Regions from separate parts of the Homo sapiens genome. Here region 1 is linked to region 2. A link means that fine-mapping ties the variant in region 2 to the expression of a gene that starts in the linked region. Tissue or cell type: pancreas. Region 2 holds a variant in brackets; the other region holds the start of a gene. All regions are shown on one strand. Distances are between the middles of the regions.

The links. PIP is the estimated chance that this variant, and not a neighbour inherited with it, causes the effect.
Region 1: TPM1 starts here. The variant in region 2 is fine-mapped to the expression of TPM1 in pancreas (GTEx, PIP above 0.99).

Annotation. Positions count from the first base shown.
Region 1 is chr15:63,038,895-63,046,999 of GRCh38, forward strand. It overlaps TPM1 (tropomyosin 1), which reads left to right and starts at 3,853. Exons shown (of 10, transcript NM_001018005.2): 1 at 3,853-4,049; 2 at 5,133-5,258. The coding sequence starts at 3,936. TPM1-AS (TPM1 antisense RNA) reads right to left here. Exons shown (of 2, transcript NR_147233.2): 2 at 7,140-8,105. RefSeq lists enhancers at 2,797-3,711, 4,625-5,538.
Region 2 is chr15:62,874,027-62,882,131 of GRCh38, forward strand. The region is part of intron 1 of LOC105370854 (a long non-coding RNA gene); the gene reads right to left. Among named protein-coding and RNA genes, the nearest start is that of MIR190A, 54 kb to the left of the region's middle. RefSeq lists an enhancer at 1,350-2,188. The variant G/A (reference allele first, on the strand shown) is at 3,567.

The DNA.
Region 1 (8,105 bases), 160 kb after region 2:
TGTCTTACCCTATCACAATACTTATATTCATTCTTCATGAAATAAGACACAGAGCCCATATTTTGAATGGAAACAAGATCTTTTGAACCTAGATTTGTTACTTTACCTTCCCAGACTTTCTTGTAAGTCAGTAAGAAAGCTGGACTTGTCAGTCATAAAAAAAATTGTTCAACAAACATTCATTGAGAAATGACTGAATACCAGGCACTGGAGAAATCTGGAAATTCCAAGCATGTTCGTGGTGATCACGTAGAGCCTCTAGGCCAAGAATGTTGAATGTTGTGCAGGCTGTCATGCCACCATGATTTGGTAAGCTTTTTACTTTCAAGGAATATAGACTCGCTTATGTAACCTCAAGAAATACAGGGGGTTATTATAAGGACCCCTGGAACTGAAATTTGGTCATATTCTCCCAATCTCTTTCTCTAAATGGTGCTTCTGTTTATCTTGATATGCCTGCTTCATTCTTTCTCTATAATCACTTCTCTGCTTTTTCATAACTTAGCTGATGCATGCCTATTGTGCTGTATTAGTCAGGAGAAGCTAGTTATGCTTCAGTAACAAACAACCCCCAATCTCAGTGGCCTAAAATAACAAAGATTTATATCTTATTCTCACTACATGTCCACCAAGGGTTAGTTGGGGGGAAAGAGGGAGCCACTTGAAAACCCACAATGACAGAGCAGCCACAGTCTTGAAAAATGAACATGGTTAGTCGTGAGCTCTTTAAGTATCCACCAGAAGTCATTTCTGCTCACGTTTCCTTGGCCAAAGCAAGTCAAATGGCCACAGCCAACTTAATTGGGTGGGATGTACAATGCTACCACGACATTGACTGGGGAGAAAACCTAAAAAATTGTGAATAACCTTAATCACTTTTACACGTGGCATTTCCAGCCCGACACTGCAATCCCTTTTTGTTTCAGCAGCCACGGCTAGTGATTCCCATTTTTCACGTTCCTTAATTCAAACTGCAATGAAAGAAGCTGAGTGGCCCAGTTCATCATTGCCTGACAAGCCACAACGCCAAGTCCCTGGTTAGTATTTAGATCCATCCTTGAGTTGTGGCCAATCAGCCAGAGAACAGGGATACACACTACATACAGCCTGTGACTGTCCAGCCTACCTCTGGAGAGGACCAGGAGACCTGTTCACTACAGAAGAATGTGTTATTTAAGTCATGACGTTTTGCTTGTCCTAGCTTTGTCTTAGCCCTTGGTGACAAAAAGGTCATGGGTGGTATAGCCCATGAAGCTGACTTGGGCCTGACACATGGCAGAATCTCAACATGGGTTAAAAGAAATGATTGAATTCAGGACCTGCTATGTTAACCCATCAGTCTAGAGATCAATGATGTGGTACTAAGGGATTTTAAAAGTTAGCGTTGTATAGCTCCATTTCCATACTTTGACACCATAGGCTTCGACCTCTGAATATAGGCCCTAGGTGAGGGAGTCTGGGAGAGGAAGAGGTGAAAAGAAGAGACATCGATGGCTTTAAACTACACAATAAGGTCTGAATGTCTGAATCTGGAATTCAAGGCCCTTTATCATACAGCCCCAAGCTTCCTTTCCAGTCTCATGCCCCCATTCACCCCCAAAATCCTACTGTCCAACCACCACCAAACATTCCTTTTTCTTTCCTTGGCGCATACAACGGCCCTCCTCTCTAGCTAACTGCTACCCTTCCTTTAAAATCAGTTTAAAAGCCATCACCTTTTCAGAGAATTTTTTCCCATCTGCTCTGACCTAGTCATTTCTATTTCTTCCTCGTGTGAATTCTTAACACCTTTCTCATGCCAAACACCTGGAGGACATAGACCTGTGCTACTCATTCTTTGGATTCCAGAGCCTAGTACCTGCCTAGTATATAGCAGGTACTCAACAACCGTGTGTTTAATAAATTGCTTGTAGCATGATTTCATTTAAGGAAACTTTAATGAGTCCCTCGGCTACATATGGCACAGTAAGAAAAGAAAAGTCAGTAACATGTGGTCCCGCAAGGAGTTTCTCTAGTTCAGTTGCCTCTTTTTATAAGTGAGAAAAAAGGCTTAGAGAGATTGTAACATGGCTAAGGTCACACTGCAAGGAAGTGACCAGGCCAGGTCTGGATCCCTGGAACTGACTCCTAACTCCCTATTCTTGCCTCCTCTGCTGAGCTCCAACCTGGGGAGTCAGCTCCCTGGAGTCCACGCATCTGGATATCGTCCACATGCCTGGAACTTTGTCACTGTTCCGGTGGCTGGGTTGACACACCGTGATTAAAGGGCTCTGGTCAATTTCTGTGCCACGCAGCCCCTATGCTAATGGTCAGATCTAATGTTCTGACCATTAGGTCAGTGTATCTTTTCCCTCCTGGGCAGTTAGGTTAGTGGAAGAAACCCGATAAAATCTTGGAGAGGAATTTGATCATTCTCTGAAGGACTTACAAGTTGTTTGGCCTGCCTAATCTGCTCAGATACCGTCCGGGGAATATTTGGTAACCATGCAGTACAGACTGTGAATTATTCTGTGGGGACTATTAACAAGACCCTCACCAACCCTGCCTCAGCTGATCTCAGGGCTTGGGGGCAGCCCCCTCTCCTCCCCTCCCACTGAAGCTCTGAAAAAAAGCAGCCTTTCCCCCTTGGGAGATGGGAGGAGTAGTTAAAAATAAGAAGTGTTGGGGGAAATCCTCCTCCTTCCAAGCACAGCTCACACGGCAGAGCCTCCTCAGAGTTGCGGCTGCGGATGCAATGACTTAGCCAGGTTAACGCCGATCCCATGTTTTCCGAAACCTGGCACCTAAGCATCTAACATGGAAGGCCGACTCCCTAAAATCAGTGCAAGAAAAATGATAACAAGTTATATCTGGAGGGACCTCGGGGATTATCTACCCGCTGGATTTAAAGTTGAGGAAGCCGCGGGCAGCAAACAAGGTCTCACAGTTGCTGGTGGCAGAGTAGAGACCACAGACCAAATTGCCTGAGTCTAAACTCAATGTTCTTTCCCCTTAGACTGCCACCCGCACACACACGCACACATGCACACCTTTTTGGAGGCACTGCACAGCAAGCACAGAAGTACGCCACTGAGTCCTGTGTCCCTAAAGTATTTGACTGTCCCTCCGCTGGGGGAAAGGGCAGGCAGAAAACAAGACTCCGTGTGCTGTCGCTGTGCCGCCCCCTGCCTCTCTGACCCGCGCCCGCAGAGAAAGTCTCAAGAGCCGCCCCAGGCTTTCTCCCACGTTCTCCCTTTCTCTGCTGCAGTTGAGTTTCCAGAGCGTGAGCGCGCAGGATGACACCTGGCTGGCTGAGAGCTGCCGGGGAGGCGCTGGCGGGTGCCGAGAGCGCACTGACCCTGACGCGGGGTGCAGCACGGCTGGGAAGCCCCCGGGCCTTTGGCTAAGCGCGCCGGGGGACGGCACAGGGGGGCGACGCGCATCCACCACCTGGTCCGCGCTCTCCCGGCCTCCGGCAGCTCAGGGCGGGCTCGGTTGGGGACCCTAATGGCTGGGTGCCGGCCCTGGGAGAAGGGCACGCGGAGGGCGGAGGGTTGCGCCTCGGCCCCGGCTCGGCCCCAACGCCCTCTCCCTGGCGCGCAGGTTTAGAAACAGGGCGGCCTCTCCGGCCGCCGCCTCGGCGGCTCGGGTCCCCATATATAGTCATATCCACCGTCAACTGGGAGGCCGGCGGCCGGCAGCGAATGGGCGAGCGGCCCCCGCGGGAGGAGCGGGGAGGGGGCACGGGGCGGAGGGAGGAGAGGAGGAAGGGGGGCAGGAGAAAAAAGCTTTTCCAAAAAAGTATTGGCTGTCTTGAGGAATGCGGTCGCCCCCTTGGGAAAGTACATATCTGGGAGAAGCAGGCGGCTCCGCGCTCGCACTCCCGCTCCTCCGCCCGACCGCGCGCTCGCCCCGCCGCTCCTGCTGCAGCCCCAGGGCCCCTCGCCGCCGCCACCATGGACGCCATCAAGAAGAAGATGCAGATGCTGAAGCTCGACAAGGAGAACGCCTTGGATCGAGCTGAGCAGGCGGAGGCCGACAAGAAGGCGGCGGAAGACAGGAGCAAGCAGGTCTGCGCCTCCCCGGCCCTGCGCCCGCGCCCAGAGCGCCGGGACTCGAGCCTGGCACCCCCGGCTGGATCCCCACCCCGAGGACTCGGGGAGCCACCACCCTACCCCCACCACCACCCAGGGCGGCCAGGGCGCGCGTCTGGAAAGAAGGAAGGGAAACGCAAGAGCCAGGCTTAGTCTAACTTAGTCTGGTCTGAGGACGCTTATTTCCCTTCTCTGGTTCCCATGGCCCGCGAAATCAAGTCCTAGAGGCGCTTTATTCTCAGGACTGGGAATCAGTTTGGGGGAGGGAGGAGGACACCCGGTTCCTGGGGACGTTTGAAGGAAGGGCGAGGGATGGAGAAAGGGGGTCGAGTAACTCAAGTGTTAGAAGTTCGTTGACTTTTGACTGGGGAGAAAGGAACCTTAAACTTGGGGAGGAGAAGGGAGTCCTGGAGTTGTTACCTAAGAACAAAGATGGGGCGGAATGGAGGCTACAGCCCGAAAGCCAGGCCAGCAGTGGCGTTCTTCTGTGTCCCCAAGTAGTGGACTTGAGCCCGCTGAGACCTCGGCAGGAGTCTCGTCCCAGGGCAGGTGGGTGTGCGGGGTGAGCCGCGGAGCGGTTCCAGCTCGGGTAAAGAGGAAGTTACCTCGGGTCCTTTGCACTCCAACTCGGCGGCGCCCCGAGCCCGAGGGGCCCCAGCCAACCCGACGCCCGTGTGTTGTGTGTGTCTAACACCCGGTCCGTGCCGGCCGCCCGCGCCCGCCCGCCGCTGCCCCCAGCTCGAGGAGGACATCGCGGCCAAGGAGAAGTTGCTGCGGGTGTCGGAGGACGAGCGGGACCGGGTGCTGGAGGAGCTGCACAAGGCGGAGGACAGCCTCCTGGCCGCCGAAGAGGCCGCCGCCAAGGTACCCGGGGCGCGCGGCACGGCGTGGCGCACGAATGGCTAACTCTTTCTCTTTCTCTCTCTCCCTCCCTGTCTTTCCCTCTGTCTCTCCCGCTGTCCCTGTCCTTCTGGTTCTGTGCACCCACACCCCTCCCCTTCGGGATCACGCTGCCTGCTGCACCCCCCTCCCTCCCTGTACCCCCTGGCCAACTCCCAGCTGGAAGATGAGCTGGTGTCACTGCAAAAGAAACTCAAGGGCACCGAAGATGAACTGGACAAATACTCTGAGGCTCTCAAAGATGCCCAGGAGAAGCTGGAGCTGGCAGAGAAAAAGGCCACCGATGTAAGTGCACGCTCACACTGCTTCCCTCACCTCTTGCCTGCGTGGCCACTCCGGGGTCACCACAGGGCTGGAGAGCAATGAAGGAAGTTTACCTTTTCCTGCTGGACACCTGCACACAGCCCTGCCATGGCCCAGAGCATTGGATGCCGCCTCTGACTGCTACTGCACACATTCATTTATATTTCATCCACTCCTCTCTTCTTCTCCTTTCCTTTACCTCCCTGGGGGTGGAGGTGGGTGGATGAGAGGCTGGGAGAATAGAGCAGCTGAAATTGGACTCTGGAGGTGAACTTCACCTCCCTGGTGGCAGAAAACCCTTGAGGTGTCATCACCAAGGTTTGTGTAGAGAATGCCAGGTTTTCTTCACTTTCTTTCCTTTTGCCGTTTCCAGTGGGTGGGAAGTTCTGGGTTTGGTGGTGGGTCTAGTCAGGGTTCAGAGAACCTGGCCTCTAAATGAAAGAAATGACACAGCGGTACCTTTACTTAGATGGCTGCACTTCATGGTGGGGCACAGAGACACTTTGAGGCTTCCTTTCTCATTAGTGTAAGCCTTAATCCACCCCTTAAGATCTGCCTGGGAAGATGATACTTGCTTGGGTCTGCAGTCTGAAGGCACTAGATCCAGAAAGTAAGCTGTGAGTTATATATAGCTCAGTGCTTTATATGGTATAGTGAGCTAGCTGCCCCCTGCCCCTCCTGCTGGCCCCGCCCCCACCTGTCAGCCTTCTGACAACCACCACATAGTTGCAGGGGTGATGCACACAGCTAAGGCTCTCCTAAGCTCTTTGTCCACTGCCCTTTGGAAGCTTTTTAATTGATAGCTTGCCTCTTCTGCCTCGGAAAGTCAAGCCAAAGGACCAACTTCTTTTCACACCGTTGGATTCCATTCTAAAAGCTAATTAAGCCTAGAGGCCCAATTAGAAAAGAATTCCTTGGGAAGTTGGTAACAATTCCAAGAATGTGTGAGCACCAGGGAAAGCTATGCCAGCAGTTGAAACACCGAGAGCAACAGCAGACTTTTTTATATGAAAGTAACATGCAAATAACTGAAGGGTCTCAGGTCTTGAAATTAGTGAAGTCTTTTGTAGCATGAAAGGCTTGAGATGTATATCCAGGTGTGCTTTGTAAATGAGAACTCCAGAGACGACATTTAGGATCTGACAAAAAGAAATTTTCAGTGAAAATCAAGCTTCCTGGAAAGGGGATTTGGGGGGAAGCACTGATTTCGCTAAAACATTTAAATTCTAAACTACCTGGCTTTGGAAAAAGAGCCAAAAACCATATATGACTCTGAGCCTACTTTGTATAATGCAGATCAGATGCCTGCTCTATATATGGCTAAATGGAAGATGCCTGCCTCCCGCAAATTCTCCAGCAGGACGTTTATTTAGCTTTTTCAAAAGAGCTGCTAATAGATCAAGGAAAGATATTCCTTATAAGGAAAAGAATGCAGAGAATTTGAAAATAGCCCAGTAAGACTGAAGGCAAAAGAGGGAGAAAAAGGTTACTACAATTCTTAAGGGAAAAAAATAGGATAATAATTATTGTAACTATGTAGTGCTAACATGTCTTTATTGAAAAGTCTTGTTGAAGGGAGCGCTGGAATGGGGTGGGGCAGAAATGGGAAAGAAGTTATTTAAAGTCAGCTGGTGTGGGAAGCAGCAGGGGAGGGAGCTTCTTGAATCTTGTTTTGGTTATTTTTCCCACCGGGAAACTGCCCCTAAATCTGGCATATATGGCTTTTTTGATAGTGTATTGATCACATTCCCTTTTAGGACACTTTAGGTTGTCTGGAGTTTGGAGCCCGTAGGAATATTGAAGAAGTTAGTGAAGAAATGCTATACAGTCATTTGTTGATTAATGAAGGGGGATAAGGTCTGAGACATGTGTCGTTAGGTGATTTATTCATTGTGCAAACACCATAGAGTGTATGGTACTTACACAAACCTAGAGGGTATAGCCTACTAAACACCTAGGCTACAAACTTGTACAGTGTGTTACTGTACTGAATACTGTCAACAATTGTAACACAAATCACCAGGCGATAGGAATTTTTTAGTTCTATTGTAATCTTATGAGGCTACTCTCATATATGCAGCCCCTCATTGACCAAAACATCATTATGCAGTGCATGACCATATTGAGAGTATTCGTTTTTTATTTACTAAAAAATAGTCAAAACTTGAGGAGGAAGAGACAGATGTCACTAGAAAAAGGGAGAAGTCCGGTAAGGGAGAAGTCAGCTTCCTGAGGTGGAATCGTATTACCTTTGGGATTAGGACATTTCATTGTCATTATTCACCAGTGTAAAACACTTTTACATTTTTCTACTATTATTACTAAAAACATTTTTCTACTACTTTACAAATCCTATTCTGGAAGTGGGCTCTACCTAGCTTAGAAGATTGTCATTCAGGAGTAGTATCCCTGATGGTCTTGTTTCGAATTTTGTGTTGTCTTTCCACCTAAGTCAAAAGTGAGGCTGAAGGGGATCGAAGACTCCATTTTTTTCTGGCCCCCAATCTCTTCCCCAGTAACTGTGATATATCTGATATTTATAGCATATGAGTCTTTATCCCTTTGTAGGTCTTTACTTCTTAACTTAGGGATTCTCAACCTTCTCTAAACATAATCACTTAGGGAGCTTTTAAAACCCAAAGTTAGGATGCACCCAAAGCCAGTTAAATCAGAATCCCTGGGGATGCAACCCAGGCGGCAGCATTTAAAAAATACCCAAGTGATTCCAACCTACAGACAAGGATGAGAAAACTCTCCTAAACTCTTGTATAATGACATCGGCATGAAAATGAACTCACCTGAAACTGACCTTCCCAGGACATTAAGTCA
Region 2 (8,105 bases):
CGTGACAAACTTCAGTGAGGCTTTTTTGTTGTTGTTGTTTTGTTTTTACCAGGATGAAATCAGCATAGTGAGGTAATAATACTGCTGGCCTGTGGGTACTGGGGCTCATGCAACATGAGAAAAACAACCATTACCAAGGCATCAAGTTGGTAGGTCGAGTCCTTCCACATGTGAAGGTGCAGTAAGTAGGGCTGGGAGTAAATGAACAATAAAATGCATCCTTTATGGTGCAAAGGACAGGAACGCCCTGCATCAAGGAATGGGGAAACAGGGCAAGGAAGACAGCTCAGAGCCAATGAAAAGAAAACCTACTAAGCACACAGTGTTGTGCTGGTCCAGCGGTTCTCTCCATGTTTTTGGTCTTGAGGCCCCTTAAAAATTATTGATGGCCCCAGACTTCTGTTTATGGATCATTATCATTTTATAAATTGAAGCTGAGAATATTTTAAAAAGAAGAATACACAGCACACATCCCAACAGCTGTCAGAGCCAGTAGCCTTTGGAAACCATGAGGGTGAGAAAATGAGAGTAAAAAGACAAATAACATCTTGGTATTTTCATGAAAACAGTGTTGACCTCAAAGCTACCCTGAAAGGGTCTTGCGGACTCCTGGACCACACTTTGAGAGCCACCGTGCTAGGCTGTTGATTCTAGTCTAGCTCATTTCATTCTCTTAACACTGAAATGTGTGTGATTACTATACCCATTTGACAGGGGAAGAAACTAAAGATCAGAAAGGCCTAAGTAACTTGCCCTAAGTAATCTTGCAGACCAGGATTTAACCCTGCTCTCTCTGCCTCCAGAGCCTCCGTTGGAACAGAGGACTTGACCATGGGAGGGCCAGGCCCAGGAGGGATTAGCTGGAGAGTCCCCAGGCGGTCACAAGGGTCCCCGCAGTGGGAGGAAGGAACCGTCGCCTCGGGAGCTGACTGGCCATGAGAAACTGCAGTACCCAGGCTTACCCCCACTGCGAAATGGGCCCGCATCCTTGACATTATGGTCTGGGAGAGGGAGGCAGCCTGGAATGGAGACCTGTCCGCCAGCGCGAGCTTTGCCATCTGCTGATGTTGAGCGCTTGGCCAGGCACCCCTAAGGGGTTGGGCTAGCGAGTGTCTTAGAGCAAAACACCATGGGGACTCCCCGCCAGCCCTGAGCTCTCAGTCCTGTATCCGGACTAGAATCTCAGGGTTGTCTCGTCAGCTGAGGGTGGGAGATGGGGCTGCATAGCCTGAGAGGGAAAACAGCTCTATTCTCACTAGCCCACATGGGCAAAGATCAGCCCAGAGAATCTGGGGCCTTTTCCAGGACCATAATAGGTGATTTCGCTCCAAAGCCTGCCAGTGGGATTATCAGTTTAAATCCACCGAGAGTAAGTTTTGTATTAGAATAGCATTCCATAGCTACTGCTGGCCTTCCACTGGGGAGCTCTGTTTCCAATCTCAAAGATGTCAAACAATTTTAAAGGCACAGAAGCTCAGTTTTACCCAGCCGGGCAGGCAATGGCAGAAGGCATGTGACTGCCAGCATTCCCACAGCAAATGCACAATGCAGCTTCACAACAGCCCCTACCCCAACCCTGACCCCAGACTCTGGTCTCTATTCTGCTTCCAGCTCCAAGACGGGCTGGAGGAACAGCTGGTCCAGAAACCTGGGGTGCCCATAACTACCCACTCAGACCTTCTGTGGGGTGCATGACTGTCCACGTCCTCAGGGAGGCCTGCATTTGCTTATTTAGACACCTAGCTCCTGGGCACACTCTCTGGAATCATAGGCCACTGCCAGGTCCCCCATGCCCATGGCCACGGCATTTCCTGCCAGCCTGGCATACTCCTCATGCCACCTCCCAGGCAGGGATGGCCACCCTCTATGAGCAAAAATAACACTAACAATAGCTCGCATTGTGAAGTTCTTCCCACTGCACACTTCTCATACCCTGTCTTGCTGGAGCTTAACAAAAACTTTACAGGGTTTGCAAGTGATAGCCCATTGTCCTTCTTCTTTATAGATGAGGAAGCTGAGGCTTGGTGCATGAAACGGGGTGTCTAAGGTCACTCCATGGGAGAGCTGGCACTAGGTCCCAGGTCTCCGTCTCAGCCCAGGGTTCCCTCTGCTGTCTGGCATTTTTGGGGTGAGGTGCAGAGCAGAAATGGTGCAGGGCACTGAGGCTAGAAGTGTAGTGAGCCCAGGGCCCCTCTCTTGCCTTTGTCTCATCACTGGTGGCCACCAGCCATGAGTCCTCGAGGGATCATTCTCTGAGCTTAGAAACACACAAATCAGGAGTTTCAATCAGCTAAGCAATGTTTCATTTTAATTTTCTTTTCTAAATTTAAATTTAATTAAATATTAAATTTAAACTTAAATGGAGAGATTTAAATTTAATACTCAAATCTCTCTCTCCCTATGCCTCCTGTTCCTGGTTTCTGGAGTAAAGAGCCTGCCTTTGGCCATCTCAGGAGCATTGGTGGGTGAAGCTCATCTTTGGGATCCTTCTTGGGATGTGGCCGTGGCCTCTCAGCAGGTTATTTAGCAACACGACTGGATGAAAGAAACCCTCCAACTTTCCAGACATAATGTAATAGGCCCTGTGTCCTCCCTTCCTGGGCTTGGGTCATGATGAAAAAGAGGGCTAACCTCACTTTTGGGACCTAAGTGAGGTTAGCCCTTGTCTTGGTAAAGCCACTTCTGGGAAGCAGCAATTTGCCCAGACCAGTGGTAAATGTTGGGGTGGTCCTACCAGGCACAGGCCTGGATGACCTCCAGGGCTCCCCGCCCCCAATTCTGCAGTGGTAGGAGGCAAGCCTTAGCACTTAACAGGCTGTTGCTGGACAAATGGGGCCCAAAGCAGGGGGTGGAAAGGGTCAGGCAGCCAGAGGGAGCCACATGAGGCCTCAACAGTGGGATCCCAGCTTGATCCAGGTGCCATCACCTCTGGCTCTTTACCCAGAGGAGTGGTGTGCAGGGAAGGAATCTCATGCAGCCTGGCCGAAGACACTGGGCTCCACATTGAGTTGCTCTGTCAGGAAAGACCTGATACATGAGTGTCACGGAACAGTACAGAGGACCCTCCAACCAAAGTCATGATCTCGCCACTCAGGGTTGGCTGGCTGTCCCAGCAGTTACAGGATTCTGAAGTGGACTTGGGGTGGAGAAGCACTCACATGGGCGCTCAGAGATTCTTGCCTCTAGTAAAGAGGAACCTCACACGTCTATGTCCGGAGAGATTCCGCTAAGAGGCTGCTGGAGCCGCTCTCTCGGGCTGGACAGAGAGCTGGTGGGTGACTCCAACCTTCCTTTGGGGGCCAGCTCCTCCCATTGCCCTGCTAGGAAAAGTCCTCGGGAATCTAAGGAAAGGCACTGTACCAAGCAAATGGCTCAGCTTTGTGCTATGAAGGCCAACCTTCCCCTTGACATCAACTCCTCTCTTTAGACCTGTGTACTCAGCCCTCAAGCTCCCGTGGCAGTGTGAGAACAGCACGCTTTATCCTTCACTCTTGGCCGTTTGGGTGCTGGGGTTGGCAAAGGTGTAAACTGCTTCCTGCGTCACCATTTGTGAATCAGGGGCTGAT[G/A]GCTCACAGGCCTAAGGTGATCAGAAGCAGGTGGGACAGCAGGTGAGTAAACAAACGGCTGCAAGAGAATGTGATCTGTCCTTCATGGAGGCGAGGACAAGGTGCTGGGAGAGTGGGGGTGGTCATGACTAATGCTGTGGGAGCAAAAGAGGCTGTGAGGGCATGATGCCACCATAGTCTGCCATGGGTACTGCCTGCTTAGAAGGCTGACAGACATCTGGGGAGGCCCGGAGAGGTAAATGGGAAGACAAGGGCTAAAAGGAGGAGTCAAAGGGCTGCCCCAACATGTTAATAACTCCTAATATGGCTCCCTGGGTGGCAGGCCTGACCCTTGCCCACTCCTGAGAGCAGATTCTCAGAACAGGCTTCTAATGAAGGTGTGAAATGAGTCAGGGTCATTGGGTGCAAGTAACAGAAACCAGTGGGCCCATGTAAGCTAAGAAGGAATCTATAGGGAAGATGTTGAGGTGTTCACAGAATTGGCAGAACTTTTTGGAGAAGCTGGGCTTGGAAAATAGATAGGAACCAAGAGAGGCTGGACAGCAGCCAGCAGGTCAAGCGCACGTCCCAGAAACACCTGCCATTGCCAGAGGTCACTTTTCAATTATCCCTGCATCTTGGCATCTTTCCTCCAAGGGTCGAAGTTTCAAATGACAGAAACATGAATCCCAACCCCCGCATATGGCTGCCAGAGGGCAGGGAGCAGGCCTTTCTGGGTCCTGGTGTCTGGGGAAGGGAGGCCTGGACGCCTTAGGGACAGACATCTGGCTTTTCTCCATGCAGCCTTGCAGTGGCTAGAGAGCTGCTGACTTTGGGGATTGGGCAGCAGTTGCCAGGAGGAGGCATCCATTCTCCGAGGGGTTTTACTCCTCCTAAGCTATGGAAAAGTTCAGTAACAGCCCAGGGTTGGAGGCATCCCAGGGTCCCAGGTTGGGAGAAGGGCAGAAGTTACTTTTCTAGTTTCTGCCTTTGCTAATAACTAATTCATTTCTTTCTATGGCTTTTTGAGAAAATATCTTGTTATCATCTGTATAGAGATCCTACTGTGTACAGCACAAGGTAGAGGTAGGGAAATCCTAAACAGAGCATAATGAGGACTCCTCTGTAAAGGAATTTTCATGACTGAAATGTATTAAATGCCTACTGTATGCCAGGTGCTGGGTTAAGTACACTTTTATGTGGCAGGGAGAAGAATATATTCTAAAACCTTGCTACACACTATATGTAATAACCTGAAACTGGAAGCTACCCAAATGTGCACCAACACTAGAATAAATTATAATAAATTAATATATTGGAATACTGTGGTACAGCAGCATTCTTGGAGCCTGGTCTGCCCCTGTGGGTCCCTGTGATCCTTTCAAGGAAGCTGCAAAATCAAACCTATTTTCATAATAATTCTAAGATATTATTTGCCTTTTCCACATTGATGTACAAAAGCAATGGTAGGTAAAACTGCAGGTGACTTAACACAGATCAAACAATAGCACTAAACAGAACTAGTAGTCATTGAATTATTCACTCCCATACATCCTCACTACAGATTTTCCAATTTCACTGAAGATTGCATCTTGACGAAGCAGTAAAAGTTATTAATTCCAGTCAGTCTCAACCCTTGAATGCATGTCTTTTTAATATTCTGTGTGACAAAATAGGGAGTTTGCATAAAGCACTTCTGCTAAATACTGAAGTACAAGGGACGTCTTGAAGAAAAGCATTTGTGTGATTGTGTGAGTTGCAAATGGAACTAGCCGCTTCCTTGTATGTGATTCTTGGTGTGCAAGTGCAGCGACTCTTTGTTTGGGATGCAATTTCTAGGTCATAGAGTATGTGGATGTTCAACTTCATGAGAAAATATCAAACTGTTCTCCAAAGGAATTATTAGACCTTTACAGTTTTTTGGCCAAATGAAATGGTCTTTCATTTTGGTCTGGATTTTTGTTTTCCTAATCATTAATGTGGATGAATGTTCACTGGCCACACAGATTGCCTGCCACTGCTAATTTTGAATCAGCCTAGTCAGCTAATGTCACAGAATACAGCAACATGAGCACAGGTGGTACTAGTCAGGGATGGGAGAGGTGGTTTAGTGCGACCGTATTTAATGTGTTATAAGATGCCATCAGTTATAAGATGCACCATCAGCTTAACACAGATTTACTGAAAAAAAGTCATATCGAATTAAACACTTTTTTAAAAACAACTAATATTGTACTGTATCAGTCCATTTCACACTGCTATAAAGAACTGCCTGAGACTGGGTAGCTTATAAAGGAAAGAGGTTTAATTGACTCACAGTTCCGCAGGAAACTTACAATTATGCAGAAGGTGAAGGGGAAGCAAGGCATGTCAGGCATGTCATACATGGCAGCAGGAAAGAGACAGTACGCAGGGGAAACTGCCACTTTAAAAACCATCAGATCTCTGAGAACTCCGTCACTATCATGAGAACAGCGTGGGGGAAACTGCCTCCATCATCTGATCACCTCCCACCACGTCCCTCCCCCGAAACGTGGGGATTACAATTCAAGATGAGATTTGGGTGAGGACACAGAGCCAAACCATATCATGCACATTTATCTGTATAATCATATAGCATTTTCTTTTTTAATATCACCATCGACTCTAAATTTTTTTCACATTTACAGTCTGAAGACTCTTCCCAGTTGAGGCAAGTACTGTCATAGAAATGTAGACTTATGGAACCTGTACCCGTGAACTTGACATCCTGAGTATACTTAGTAGAGACAGTTAATATGCCAGGTTTTGCATGCATTTCCTATTTGGTTAAACTCATGGTTTCATTTTCTCTGCAACTGAATTACATATCACTGGAAATTTGGAAGTCACCCAGATACTTTTGACAGATGGATGTGCAGTATCTAGTGATAATCTTTCACAGGGCACAAATTAACCACAGCAGCCTCTCCCAGCTCTCAATTCTGCAATCTCCTTGGAAAGATTTAGCTAAGTTTGCATAACTCAGTGATGAAAACCATGTCACAACTCATTCCTCTATTTGCTGCTAGTAAATTTGGGTTGCCATCAATTAAAAGACACAACCCAATTTCAGAAACGTTCAGAAGTGAAAGAGTGTGCATCTTATTTTTCCTCTAATTATCTAGTAATTAAATTTTAAATGTGTATATATATGTGTGTATATATATGTGTGTGCATATATATAGGTGAGTGTGTGCACGTGTGTGTGTGTAAGTGTAGCCAACATTTATTAAGCATCTACCAGGTGATAACTTCCACGACTCCATGTCAGGGACTCTCCATTTATTATCGTTAATCTTTACAGTAATTTTGTGAGGTAGGTAACATCCTCATTTTAAAGGAAACTGAGGTTCAAAGGGTCAAGATAACTTGACCAAGACTCATAAGCTGCAGAATCAGAATTCAAATCTAGGTCTATCTAACTTCAAGGCCAATAAGCTTTCTACCACGTTATGAATCTCTTTTTTAGGTACTAAATTCCATGGGCCACTACTAGGTAAGACCTCGAATGAATTATTGCCAACTCTGCCTGTTATGTTTCTAAGGTTGGATGCCTCCCTTTAGGAAGAGGTTACTGGCAGGGACAATGGAGAGATTTACAAAAGAGTTGAGCAATGTTAAAAATAACAACAAGGTATTTGCTCCTAATCCTGTTAAGCTCCTTTGAGCTCTGCGCAAGCCGAGAAGGGGAGGGCATGTTAATTTGCTTGCGTACAGGTGCATCTAAGGTTGCTGTTGCAATCTCCACATCTTCCAACCTTAGCCAGGGCTTGGTGTCACTTTTTCTAGTGTTCATGGGTGCAAAACCCTGATTTGTTTTATTATGATGAACAATCATAAAACTGATGTGCTAATGTCAATAAGGAGGCTCAGTTTCAGCCCTGGAAATGTACTTCTTTTGATTAAGAGTGCCCTGGCCAGGCACAGTGGCTCACACCTTTAATCCCAGCACTTTGGGAGGCTAAGGCGGGTGAATCACGAGGTCAAGAGATCGAGACCATCCTGGCCAACATGGTAAAACCTCATCTCTACTAAAAATACAAAAATTAGCTGGGCCTGGTGGCGCACACATGTAGTCTCAGCTACTCGGGAGGCTGAGGCAGGAGAATCACTTGAATCCAGTAGGTGGATGTTGCAGTGAGCTGAGATCGCGCCACTGCACTCCAGCCCAGTGACAGAGCAAGACTCCGTCTCAAAAAGAAAAAAAAAAAAAAAAAAAAAAGTGATGCGTGGTGGTGTTGAATCAGACTCAGGGGTTTGTATTTTTTTCAGTCTCCAAATTACATACAGGTCCATTTGGAGCTTCTACAGACCTGAAGAGACCTGGGGGGCGGGGGGAGGGTTCTCTAACATCAGATACAACAACCCCTAAGCTATCTTGCACAAGTAAAAACTTGTGGGTACTCAGACTTTGCTGAAGGAGAGTGTTCCTTCATCATCCTCAAATGCATGGCTTAGTTTGGCCAGTCACAAACTTTTCATCACCAAAAACCCCATTCTATAACTTTTCCTGCTGGGCCTCTTCCTATGAAGTACTTT